Linked DNA regions of Homo sapiens. The protein of the gene in region 3 interacts with the protein of the main gene of each other region in a pairwise test. Each region holds a gene or a part of one and is shown on either strand. Other genes may lie near its edges. The genes, in order: DMKN, SCAMP1 and GAD2.

The links.
Region 1: the proteins of GAD2 (region 3) and DMKN interact in binary tests that used the Homo sapiens proteins (3 or more experiments, as listed by UniProt).
Region 2: the proteins of GAD2 (region 3) and SCAMP1 interact in binary tests that used the Homo sapiens proteins (3 or more experiments, as listed by UniProt).

What each region holds. Positions count from the first base shown.
Region 1 is NC_000019.10:35,503,577-35,507,230, reverse strand, and holds part of DMKN (dermokine isoform 2 precursor), read left to right. Parts: intron 1-1,045; coding exon of another isoform or gene 1,046-1,105; intron 1,106-1,244; coding exon 1,245-1,292; intron 1,293-1,465; coding exon 1,466-1,513; intron 1,514-3,654. UniProt on the Homo sapiens protein: May act as a soluble regulator of keratinocyte differentiation.
Region 2 is NC_000005.10:78,423,067-78,426,720, reverse strand, and holds part of SCAMP1 (secretory carrier-associated membrane protein 1), read right to left. Parts: intron 1-3,654. UniProt on the Homo sapiens protein: Functions in post-Golgi recycling pathways. Acts as a recycling carrier to the cell surface.
Region 3 is NC_000010.11:26,300,201-26,303,854, forward strand, and holds part of GAD2 (glutamate decarboxylase 2), read left to right. Parts: intron 1-587; coding exon 588-761; 3' UTR 762-3,654. UniProt on the Homo sapiens protein: Catalyzes the production of GABA.

The DNA.
Region 1 (3,654 bases), on a different chromosome or scaffold from region 3:
AGGGGAGAAAACAGATAAAAGTAACAGAAGAATGGTCAAGGGGATTTCCATACTTAGGGAGGCAGTGTTGAGAAGGAGAAAGTCACTGAGCTTTGAGGTAGAAGATGAGGTTTCGAAAGCCAGCTCTGGCCAGGCACCAGCATAACTGTAATCCCAGCACTTTGGGAGGCTGAGGTGTGGGGATCATTTGAGCCCAGAAGTTTGAGACCAGCCTGAGCAACGTAGGAAGACCCTGTCTCTACTTTTTAAAAAGAAAATAATAGGCCATGTGCAGTGGCTCACACCTGTAATCCCAGGTAGCTAGGATTACATGCCTCAGCCTCCCAAGTAGCTGGGATTACAGGCATGTGCCACCATGCCTGACTAATTTTGTATTTTTAGTAGAGATGGGGTTTCACTATGTTGGCCAGGCTGTTTTCAAACTCCTGACCTCAGGTGATCCACCCACCTCGGCCTCTCAAAGTGCTGGGATTACAGGCGTGACCCACGATGCCCAGCCTCAAAAAAATTTAAGATATATATTAAAATCACCACCAGCTCTATCATGTCATCTGTATATCTTCAGGCAAGTCAGCTAACCTCTCCGAGCCTGAGCTTCCTCCAGTAAAATGAGGACAGTGAAACCTGACTCACGCAGCCTTCAGTTACTGTACAGCTTTCCATGTCACCACCAGACCAAGGTGTTGTGGAGTCCAGACTCTGGAGACAGATGCTGCATAAGGCATGGTGCTTGGCGTGCCGTGGGACTACACGTTAGCTAATCTCATTTGCTTGAGGTGTTTTGGGGACAGACCAGGATGGAGGCAAGAGTCTGAATATTGAGATTCAGGGGACTGGGTGGGGTTCCATGGGAGCAATCCATTCTAAGAAAGCTTTCCCAAGTGAACTTTTTGGTGCTGTGTAAGGAAGAGAAGGCAGCTTTATAGAGAGGAGGACAGGAAGCCTGGACCGAGGTGGGGATGAAGCAATCCGGGGCAGGTTGACAGGTGGCAGGCATGATAGGAAGCATAAGCCTTGGACATCGGTCCCCCTTTTCCCCACCCAGGGGCAAGGGTCGAGCTGGGGCAGTGGAGGAGGTGACGCTGTTGGTGGAGTCAATACTGTGGTGAGTGGAGGCAACACTCCACCTTGGGCTGGGACCATGGTGTCACACAATCCTCGCCTCCCCTCCTGCCACTCAGATCTCCCGACTCTGGCTCACAAAGTGGGTTCTTCTCTCATCCCATATCTCCTTGGTTCCATAGAACTCTGAGACGTCTCCTGGGATGTTTAACTTTGACACTTTCTGGAAGGTGAGTTCTGCGAGATGGCTCTGTTCACTCGCATTTGGAAAACCAACCCCTGCCCTTGGCCCCACAGTCTGGGGTCCTCTTTCTAAACCAACAGTCAGCAGTGGCCCTTGACCTCTCTCGGCCAATTACCTTATGACTCAATTTGGCCATTCTTCTTTTTGTTTCCTCCATAGAATTTTAAATCCAAGCTGGGTTTCATCAACTGGGATGCCATAAACAAGGTAAGGGCTGGACATCTTCGTCGGAGAGGGCTATAGGGAAGAAAGCTAAACCTCCGCTCTGTGAGCTGGGGAAACAGTGATGCTGGCCACTGAGGAAGCATTTAGGCCAGTGCTAAAAACAAAAACTAAACACACTGGGGGTGGAGGAGGGAGGACAGAGGAGACCTGAAAAGAGGGGGAGAATCTGGAGCAGCTGAGATTGAGGTTGAGCAGAGGGGACGGGCTTCTTTGCTGTTTCAGCATATAGACCCGAGCAGGTCCTGAACCTCACTTTCCCCTTTGAGATGGGGAAGGTTAAGGGGAGAGTAGATTGACTCCTAGAGGGCACATGGAATGAGGAGTGAGGTGGAGCTAAGAGGCCCCAAGAGGAAGGGCACCCAGAGAAAGGAACCAGCACTGGCCGAGAGCCTCAGGGGTGACAGGCATTAGTCTCTCCCGCACAAACAAAAACACAGCTGGGGCGCAGAACCCCTCCCTCCTTCCTCCCTGCCTACCCTTCCGTCTTGCAGGGGAACCCCTGGCCAGGCTGCTTTGATACCTGAGTAGCACAGGCACCTCTAGAGTAGAGGGGGCTGGAGTGGAAGGGAGGGGAGGAAGGACAGGTGGACAACCCATGCAGACACACCCCCGGCAGAAGCTGCGATTCGTGATTGGAGGATGGGTTTTTGAGACACTCTATTTTTTTTTTTTTTTAAGAATATGAATTAATTGTCAAAGTTTAAACATGGAGAGACTTCACATAATGATTTGGATTTCTGGTTTCTTTCAAAAACTTTGGTAACACTGGGTTCCATTTCCATGGGGTGGGGTTAGGCTAGAGCTGAGAAACAGCTGCTGCTTGGCCCAGGTGGGGGGTGTTGGGAATGGGTGGGGGGGTCACTCCCTAGTGGCCAGACTGTCCCTACCTGTCACAGTCATTTTAGCCACCTGACTGGCCCCTGTGAGCAGTGGAGTTTCTGGCCTTTAATGTAAAAGAGAGAAGACTGGGCTCAGGAAAATCTAAGTCTGACCTTTTAGGAAGGAGATTGAGGAGACAGGAGAGTACAGATGTTCCCACCCAGCTACAGTGGATTCATGTTCTCTGTTTCTTTTCTTTTTTCTTTTTCTTTCTTTCTTTCTTTTGTTTTTTTTTTTTTTGGTGAGACGGAGTCTCGCTCTGTCACCCAGGTTGGAGTGTAGTGGTTCGATCTCAGCTCAATGCAGCCTCTGCCTCCTGGGTTCAAAATGATTCTCCTGCCTCAGCCGCTCCAGTAGCTGAGTTTACAGGTGCCCGCCACCACACCCGGGTAATGTTTGTATTTTTAGTAGAGATGGGCTTTCACTATGTTGGCCAGGCTGGTCTCGAACTCCTGACCTCCAGTGATCTGCCCACCTTGGCTTCCCAAAATGTTGGGATTACAGGCATGAGTCACTGCATCTGGCCTCTCTGTTTCACAGAGAACGGTTTCTGGTAGGAGCAAGACTCTTTCCTGGGTCACAGGGAACTTAGGGTCTGATGGGAGAGCCGGGGCACATACAGACACTTCCCAGAGAGCCAGGATAGACACCCTGCCAGTTTTGCCCATCTAGGGCGGCAGTCGAGGGAGTGATCGCAGTGAGGCAGGATCCATCTGGGCCAGCTCCTCAAGGGGCAGATCTCCTAGAAAGCAGGGCAGGGCAGAGGTGGGCAGGGGAGAGAATGGAGCCCCATTCTTCACAGTGGGGTGAGGGAGCTGAGGACTTCAGCCAGAGTGAGGAGGGAGCAGAGGGGAACGCAGTGTAATGTTCCTGACGATGCAGGGGGTTCTTAAGCCCAAGCCAGGATATCTGGGTTTGTTTGGATAGCAGTGGTGGGCAAAAAGGTCCCTGTAGGTTTCTGGAGCAGGGGTCTCTTATACCCTTGTGCTGGCTCACAATGCCCTGGAATTCCTATTTCTCAAGCTCTCTCTTAGAACCTATTTCTGGCCAGGCGCGGTGGCTCATGCCTGTAATCCTAGCACTTTGGGAGGCCGAGGCTGGCAGATCACTTGAGGTCAGGAGTCTGAAACCAGCCTGGCCAATGTGGTGAAACCCCATCTCTACTAAAAATACAAAAATTAGCCAGGCGTGGTGGTGTGCGCCTGTAGTCCCAGCTACTTGGGAGGCTGAGGCAGGAGAATCGC
Region 2 (3,654 bases), on a different chromosome or scaffold from region 3:
AATTGTGTGCAAATGAATCCAGGGAAATTTTGGGAAGGATGGAAAAGTTCTAAAACTGATTGTGGTAATGATTGCACAACTCTATTAATTTACTTAAAAATCATTGAATTGGGCAAAAGATATGAACAGACACTTTTCAAAAGACATTTATGCAGCCAACATGAAAAAAAGCTCATCATCACTGGTCATTAGAGAAACGCAAATTAAAACCACAATGAGATACAATCTCATGCCAGTTAAAATGGTGATTATTAAAAGATCAGGAAACAGATGCTGGCAAGGCCATGGAGAAATAGGAACGCTTTTACACTGTTGGGAGTGTAAATTAGTTCAACCATTGTGGAAGACAGTGTGGCAATTCCTCAAGGATCTAGAACCAGAAATACCATTTGATCAGCAATCTCATTACTGGGTATGTACCCAAAGGAATATAAATCATTCTGCCATAAAGACACATGCAAACATATGTTTATTGCAGCACTATTCACAACAGCAAAGACTTGGAACCAACCCAAATGCCCATCAGTGATAGATTGGATAAAGAAAATGTGGCACATATACACCATGGAATACTATGTAGCCATAAAAAAGAAATGAGTTCATGTCCTTTGCAGGGACATGGAGGAATCTGGAAGCCATCATTCTCAGCAGACTAACACAGGAACAGAAAACCAAACACCTCATGTTCTCACTCTAAGTGGGAGTTGAACAATGAGAAGACATGGACACAGGAAGGGGAACATCACAAACCAGGGCCTGTCAGGGGTGGGGGGCAAGGGGAGGGAGGGCATTAGGACAAATACCTAATGCACGCGGGGCTTAAAACCTGGATGATGGGTTGATAGGTGCAGCAAACCACCATGGCACACGTACACCTATGTAATAGACCTGCACATTCTGCGCATGTATCCCAAAACTTAAAGTAAAATAAAATAAAATAAATCATTGAATTTTCCCATAAGAGTGGGTGAATTTTATAGTATATACAATATATCCTAATAAAGCTACTTAAACAAAATCAAGGAATGGCAGTATATGATCATTATTTAAAATATAAAGGTAAATGCCCACATAAGTCAGCGGCAAGAACTGTTGGTAGAAAAGGATTAAAACAGGTCTTTATTTTACCAAAAAAGTATTTGCACAGCTACTTAAAACTGCATATAAAATAACCTGTATACAAAGATGTATCACTTTTATAAATATTAAAATACTTTTAAAAATATTCTCTACAAGCTAAAAAAAGGTTTGGGAGTACAAATATATATGAAAAACTAAAATTATGCTAGAGAATGAGCAAAAATTATCAAAATTCAACCTAATGGTTACCTATGGAGCAGGGAAATGGAAACATACCAGTGCTTCAGCGGTATTGATAATGTTCCATTTCTTAAATTGACCAGTGGGCTCACAGTTCATAGATGACTCATTATTATGCCTTTTAACTTGTGTTTCAGGTATTCTTTGGTATGCATTAAATACATCATAATTAAAAAGTGGGAGAAAGTACTACTTTGAAAATTGTCTTCAAAGCTACAAATAATGGCTCTGTAAAATATAATCTATAAGAAATCACAGTTCACTTATAGATCATAAAATGTAAATGATAAAATCTAAGAGGGTCCAAAAAAAGTTAAAAATTAATTACAGCTACCATTTATTCACCATCTATAATGCAAAACTTGCATACATTATCTCTAATCCTTCTTTCAACTCTACAAATATCCCTCATTTAAACCTAACAAACTGAGGCTCTGAGTTTTACTGCATGTGCTCAGAACCGCACAGCTTTTTAAGTGGGGAAGCCAAGATCACTAAGCATTATGCAAATACTCTTTCTCAGTCTGTTTCTAATAGTTACTCAACAACATTCAACAATAATGCTGCCTTGTTAATAATTACCTAATATTTTGATGTATTTGCATAATGCCTAGTGATTTGTGGAAGTACAAAATTCAGGACCAAGTTGGGGTTTTTTTGTTGTTTTTCTTCTTTTTTTTTGAGGCAGGATCTCACTCTGTCGCCCAGGCTGGAGTGCAGTAGCACGATCTTGGCTCACTGCAACCTCTGCCTCCCGGGTTCAGGCGATTCTCCTGCCTCGAGCTGGGATTACAGAAACATGCCACGATACTCAGCTAATTTTTTGTATTTTTAGTAGAGATGGAGTTTCACCATGTTGGCCAGGCTGTTCTCAAACGCCTGACCTCATGTGATCCGCCAGCCTCTGCCTCCCAAAGTGCTGGGATTACAGGCATGAGCCACCATGCCCAGCCCCAAGTTACAATCTTTGTAAACTACATAAATAACAAAATGACAACTTCATGTTTAATCCTGATACCTAATAAACTTAACTTTTAAAAACACATACATTTGAAACTTCACTATATAATTTTCCTTGAGATTTTTACAATGAGTTTACCTTACGGAGAACAAAGTCCTGTAAATATATCAATATAAGGAAATGCCAAAGATACATAACAGGAAGGTATATTAATGATTATAAATACTTTAATTCAACTTTCCCCATAAAAAGTATTCCTCTCGAGGCTGGGCGCAGTGGCTCATGTCTGTAATCCCAGCACTTTGGGAGGCCGAGGTGGGCAGAGGCCGAGGTGGGCAGAGGCCAAGGTGGGCGGATCACCTGAGGTCAGCAGTTCGAGACCAGCCTGACCAAAATGGTTAAACCCTGTCTCTACTAAAAATACAAAATTAGCCAGGCATGGTGGTGCATGCCTGTAATCCCAGCTACCTGAGAGGCTGAGGCAGGAGAACTGCTTGAACCCAGGAGGCAGAGGTTGCAGTGAACCGAGATCAAGCCATTGCACTCCAGCCTGGGCAACAAGAGCAAAACTCCATCTCAAAAAAAAAAAAAGTATTCCTCTCATTTCTACTCTGCACAGTGAAAACCAGATTATTAATATATTTGTATATACTCTAAAAGACTGAGATGCAGCTAAAAACTCAGCCTAGGGATCAATAATGCCACAAGTAAAAATGTTCCACCAAGCATTTTTATTTCAACTGCCAAAATGGGGGAAAAAAAAAAGATACCAAGTGACTTCAGGAAATAAAAGGCACAAAGCTGGCTTTTAGTCATTTATTTTGGCTACATAAGTAACAGAAGGTTTAAAATCCAAATTCCCTAGTCTCAGGTCACTTTTTTGAAAAGTTTCATAAAGATATCCTCACTCCCACCAGCCAGCATCATCACAGATCGATAACATATTGGTAATGTGATGGAGGTCATTAGGCAGAGGTTAGATGTCCAAAAAAAACAAAACAAAACAAACTAACAAAAAACAGAAAAAGCCTTGTGAGCCATGCTTAGATAACGAAGAAAATAACAGCAATAACTCAGATCATGCAAGGAGTAACTATGTTCCTTTCATTCCTCTCCAACCCATCTCTACAGGAGAAGCTCTCCCCGTTCCTTGGCAACCAATCTCCCATATTTCAATGTATCCAAAGGTTCTTTTCTCCTTTCCCTTCTCCCATCATTTCTTCCCTTCACTCCTCCTCTCATCATTTCTTCTCTTTATGCCATTTCTAAGTAATAATTTACTTCTTCATTGTCTGATACATTTTCTCTCCAAATTCCCTAATGTTCTCCCATCTCCTGTTCTCTTCTGTTTTTCCCTCATCTGTTTACAGATC
Region 3 (3,654 bases):
ATGTTAAGTCCTTGTGAGTTCAGCTTTTTGTCCCAGCTAATTATCATCATTATTAAGGATTATCTTTCAAAATATCTTATAAAGTGAGGCACTGCAAAGAGAGAACGAAAAGAAACTAGAAAGCTCTGGGGTTTCAAGAAAGTTGCCAAAAGTCTGCTTATCTTCATATATCACCTGACACTCAAACTTACATTTTGGTAACAATCCTCTGAACTGTTTATTTCCAATGTTTTTACATTTACTGTGGGGGGAAAATGCCCCCAAACGTCTTGCTAACCCATTTAGCTTGGGGCCAATACTAGATTCATCCCATCCTCCCAAAACACTAACTGGAAAGTCAAGGACAAGGTGGCAGGCAGCTGATAGTCTATCACTTATTATTCCTCTTATCACTTGCAGGATCTTGAATGTGTTAGACTGTTCTAATTCTCTGATCCCAAGAAAACTTGGAGGTAACTCTTTCAAGAGAAAACAATAAGGTTCTGACTGTTGAGCTAAAAACTAAAGACGCTGCTTGCTGTTGGGTTCTTTGACTCAGGGGAGAGTCCCAGGAGAAAGTCACCATGCTGATATGGTCTGTCCCACAGGTGGCTCCAGTGATTAAAGCCAGAATGATGGAGTATGGAACCACAATGGTCAGCTACCAACCCTTGGGAGACAAGGTCAATTTCTTCCGCATGGTCATCTCAAACCCAGCGGCAACTCACCAAGACATTGACTTCCTGATTGAAGAAATAGAACGCCTTGGACAAGATTTATAATAACCTTGCTCACCAAGCTGTTCCACTTCTCTAGGTAGACAATTAAGTTGTCACAAACTGTGTGAATGTATTTGTAGTTTGTTCCAAAGTAAATCTATTTCTATATTGTGGTGTCAAAGTAGAGTTTAAAAATTAAACAAAAAAGACATTGCTCCTTTTAAAAGTCCTTTCTTAAGTTTAGAATACCTCTCTAAGAATTCGTGACAAAAGGCTATGTTCTAATCAATAAGGAAAAGCTTAAAATTGTTATAAATACTTCCCTTACTTTTAATATAGTGTGCAAAGCAAACTTTATTTTCACTTCAGACTAGTAGGACTGAATAGTGCCAAATTGCCCCTGAATCATAAAAGGTTCTTTGGGGTGCAGTAAAAAGGACAAAGTAAATATAAAATATATGTTGACAATAAAAACTCTTGCCTTTTTCATAGTATTAGAAAAAAATTTCTAATTTACCTATAGCAACATTTCAAATGTATTTAAATACATATAATTTTACAAAAGGAAAATATATATATTAAAAAAGATATCCTATTTTGTAACATATAGATTTTTATTTTATATAGGTTATACAAACTGCGGGGGCAGATATAAAATCTAAGCCAGATTTTTTTTTCCTTTCTCTTAATGGAGGCACAATAAAACACTTAGCAAAGTTATTTTGAAACATTGACCCACGAAATTCTTAAAAGGTATTATTGCTTCTTTCTATACATGTTATGGCTTATCACATCTCTAAAGTTAGTATTTCAAGACAAACACAAAAGAATACTGCGAGTTCTTTAAAATAATTGATCCCATTGGCAGTAAGATTCTCTTCCCCTTTAAGTTTTCCACCCATTTTACTCTTAGCGGACTCACTCTGCAAGCGTGACAAACCAGGCTTCATCTCAGATTAAATTAGGGTAATTGTCTCTATTCTGCTTTCCAGTTCGGCCTGTTTTGAACAGAAGGTTGATGCTAGTTCTTGAGGCATCTTCCAAATAGTATTCTTTTATTAGGTCATTTGAATTAATTAGAGAAAGTAAAAATAAAACCTTATCAGCCTGAGCAAAGAGGAATGAAGCACACTCCCAGAATGTGGTGAGCCCAGAAAATTAAAGTTGGCCTTGGGAGAAGAGATCTCTGTGGGACAATAATGACATCATCCTGGCGCCATATTGCCACTGTCCAGGAAAGAGAAATTTACCTCCAGGCCAGTTGCGCATTTCCATCCCCTCCCCATTCCTCCCCACAAAGTCTCTCCCACTAGACTCCCTACCACTGGGACCCAAAATAGTTACTTTATATTCCATGGGTGGTTGTTTTTCTTCCATGAAATGAGCCTCTCACCCTAGATTTTGAGGCATTATCTTAAGATTTTCCTTTATCCATCTCCCATCGAGATCCAAAGTGACCAGAATATGCAGAAATAATAAGATCCTTAGAATTCAAAATAGTATTTTTAAAACATCCTTCTTTCCCTGTGAACCTGATAGAAAAACATGAGCTAACAAAAGCTTCCATAGATATTTATGGGGTCACACATCGTCAGATTCCAAGTGCTGATTGGAGAACAATAGATTGATATGCAGACTGCAAATGCAAATTTAGGAACATTCTCCATTTCTGAATGGACCAGGTAGTTCAGTACTCAGACTGCAGGTATACAAGGGAAGAGAGAAGGCCCTGCCCTTCAACGGGTAGAAATGCCCTACAATATAACATAGAGAAATGCCCTATAATATAACCACAGGATCCAGCCATCTGAAATTTTCATAAGCTTCCCCCTACATTATTTCTCCTAGGCTATATGCAAAAACAGTGATAACTTGATATGAACATGGCTTTGGGCCCTTTCTGTCTAGAAAAACAAATGGGTTCACTATGACAATCAGAAATAAACTCTTTCATCTGTCCCGCAGAATTTCATGAAGGAGTAACCTTCCATTCTAGGCTTTGTCTAATGGCCAAGCATTAGACAAAGCATTAGAAAGCAGTTCCTTTCTCAAAACTGCCTGCTGAGAATAAGCACATAGCTGCCCGACTATCCGGAGCCTCAGGCCCAAAGGTTCCACTTCAGAGACAGAGATGCTAATTGATCCAACCTGCTGTCCTTCGTGGAGAAGACAGTGGGGCCCAGTGCCCTGGTGAACCAACCCTGCTGTACTCCAGGATGCTTTATCTTTTGAGTTACAGATCCTAGATTATAAACTGCTGCTTTTTAGGTTAATGAGATGGTAAAATTTTAAAGGACAATTTGTGCCTATATATGAAATTCCAGCAAAACAATTCTAGCAACAACAATAGCTCTTCTTCCCCGCTCCCCTACCCCTTCCCAGTACTCCTTCAAATTGGCTGAGAGCCTTGCTCAGGCCTGTGCAGGGAAATCCTTACCAACTGTAGCCCAAAGAAGGAAGCAAATAAAAGCCTAGTAGGTCCCAGTAGTTTAATAAATCATCTTGAAAGGAGATGTGGAATCAGGTCAGAAGAGAGTAAGGGAGGAAGGGAGGGAGGGAGGGAGGGAGGGAAGGAGGGAGGGAGGAAGGAAATGAAGGGAGGGAGGGAGGGAGGAAAGAAGGGAGATTATTTTTAATATTAGCCCAAATTCCCAGTGCCATGGTCTTTATGTGTGCCCATTCTTTACAAATCTTAGAAAAGTTTGGTTTTAGCTTTAATCAGAACTGACATGGCCATTTTCATTTATACAGCAATATTGTGTTTATCATTTAAAATACTTGAACAAACAAGTGTGATATGTCTTTATCTGAGACCTATACATGGTATGGACTTCATATACTGCCACAGGATGTGAGGAAAGAAAAGGAAATCAATTCTGACTGTGTTGCCTTTATTATCTGGATAATACTGTCTTGTCACCTCAGATTGGGGTTGTGCACTTTAGATCTGAACTGT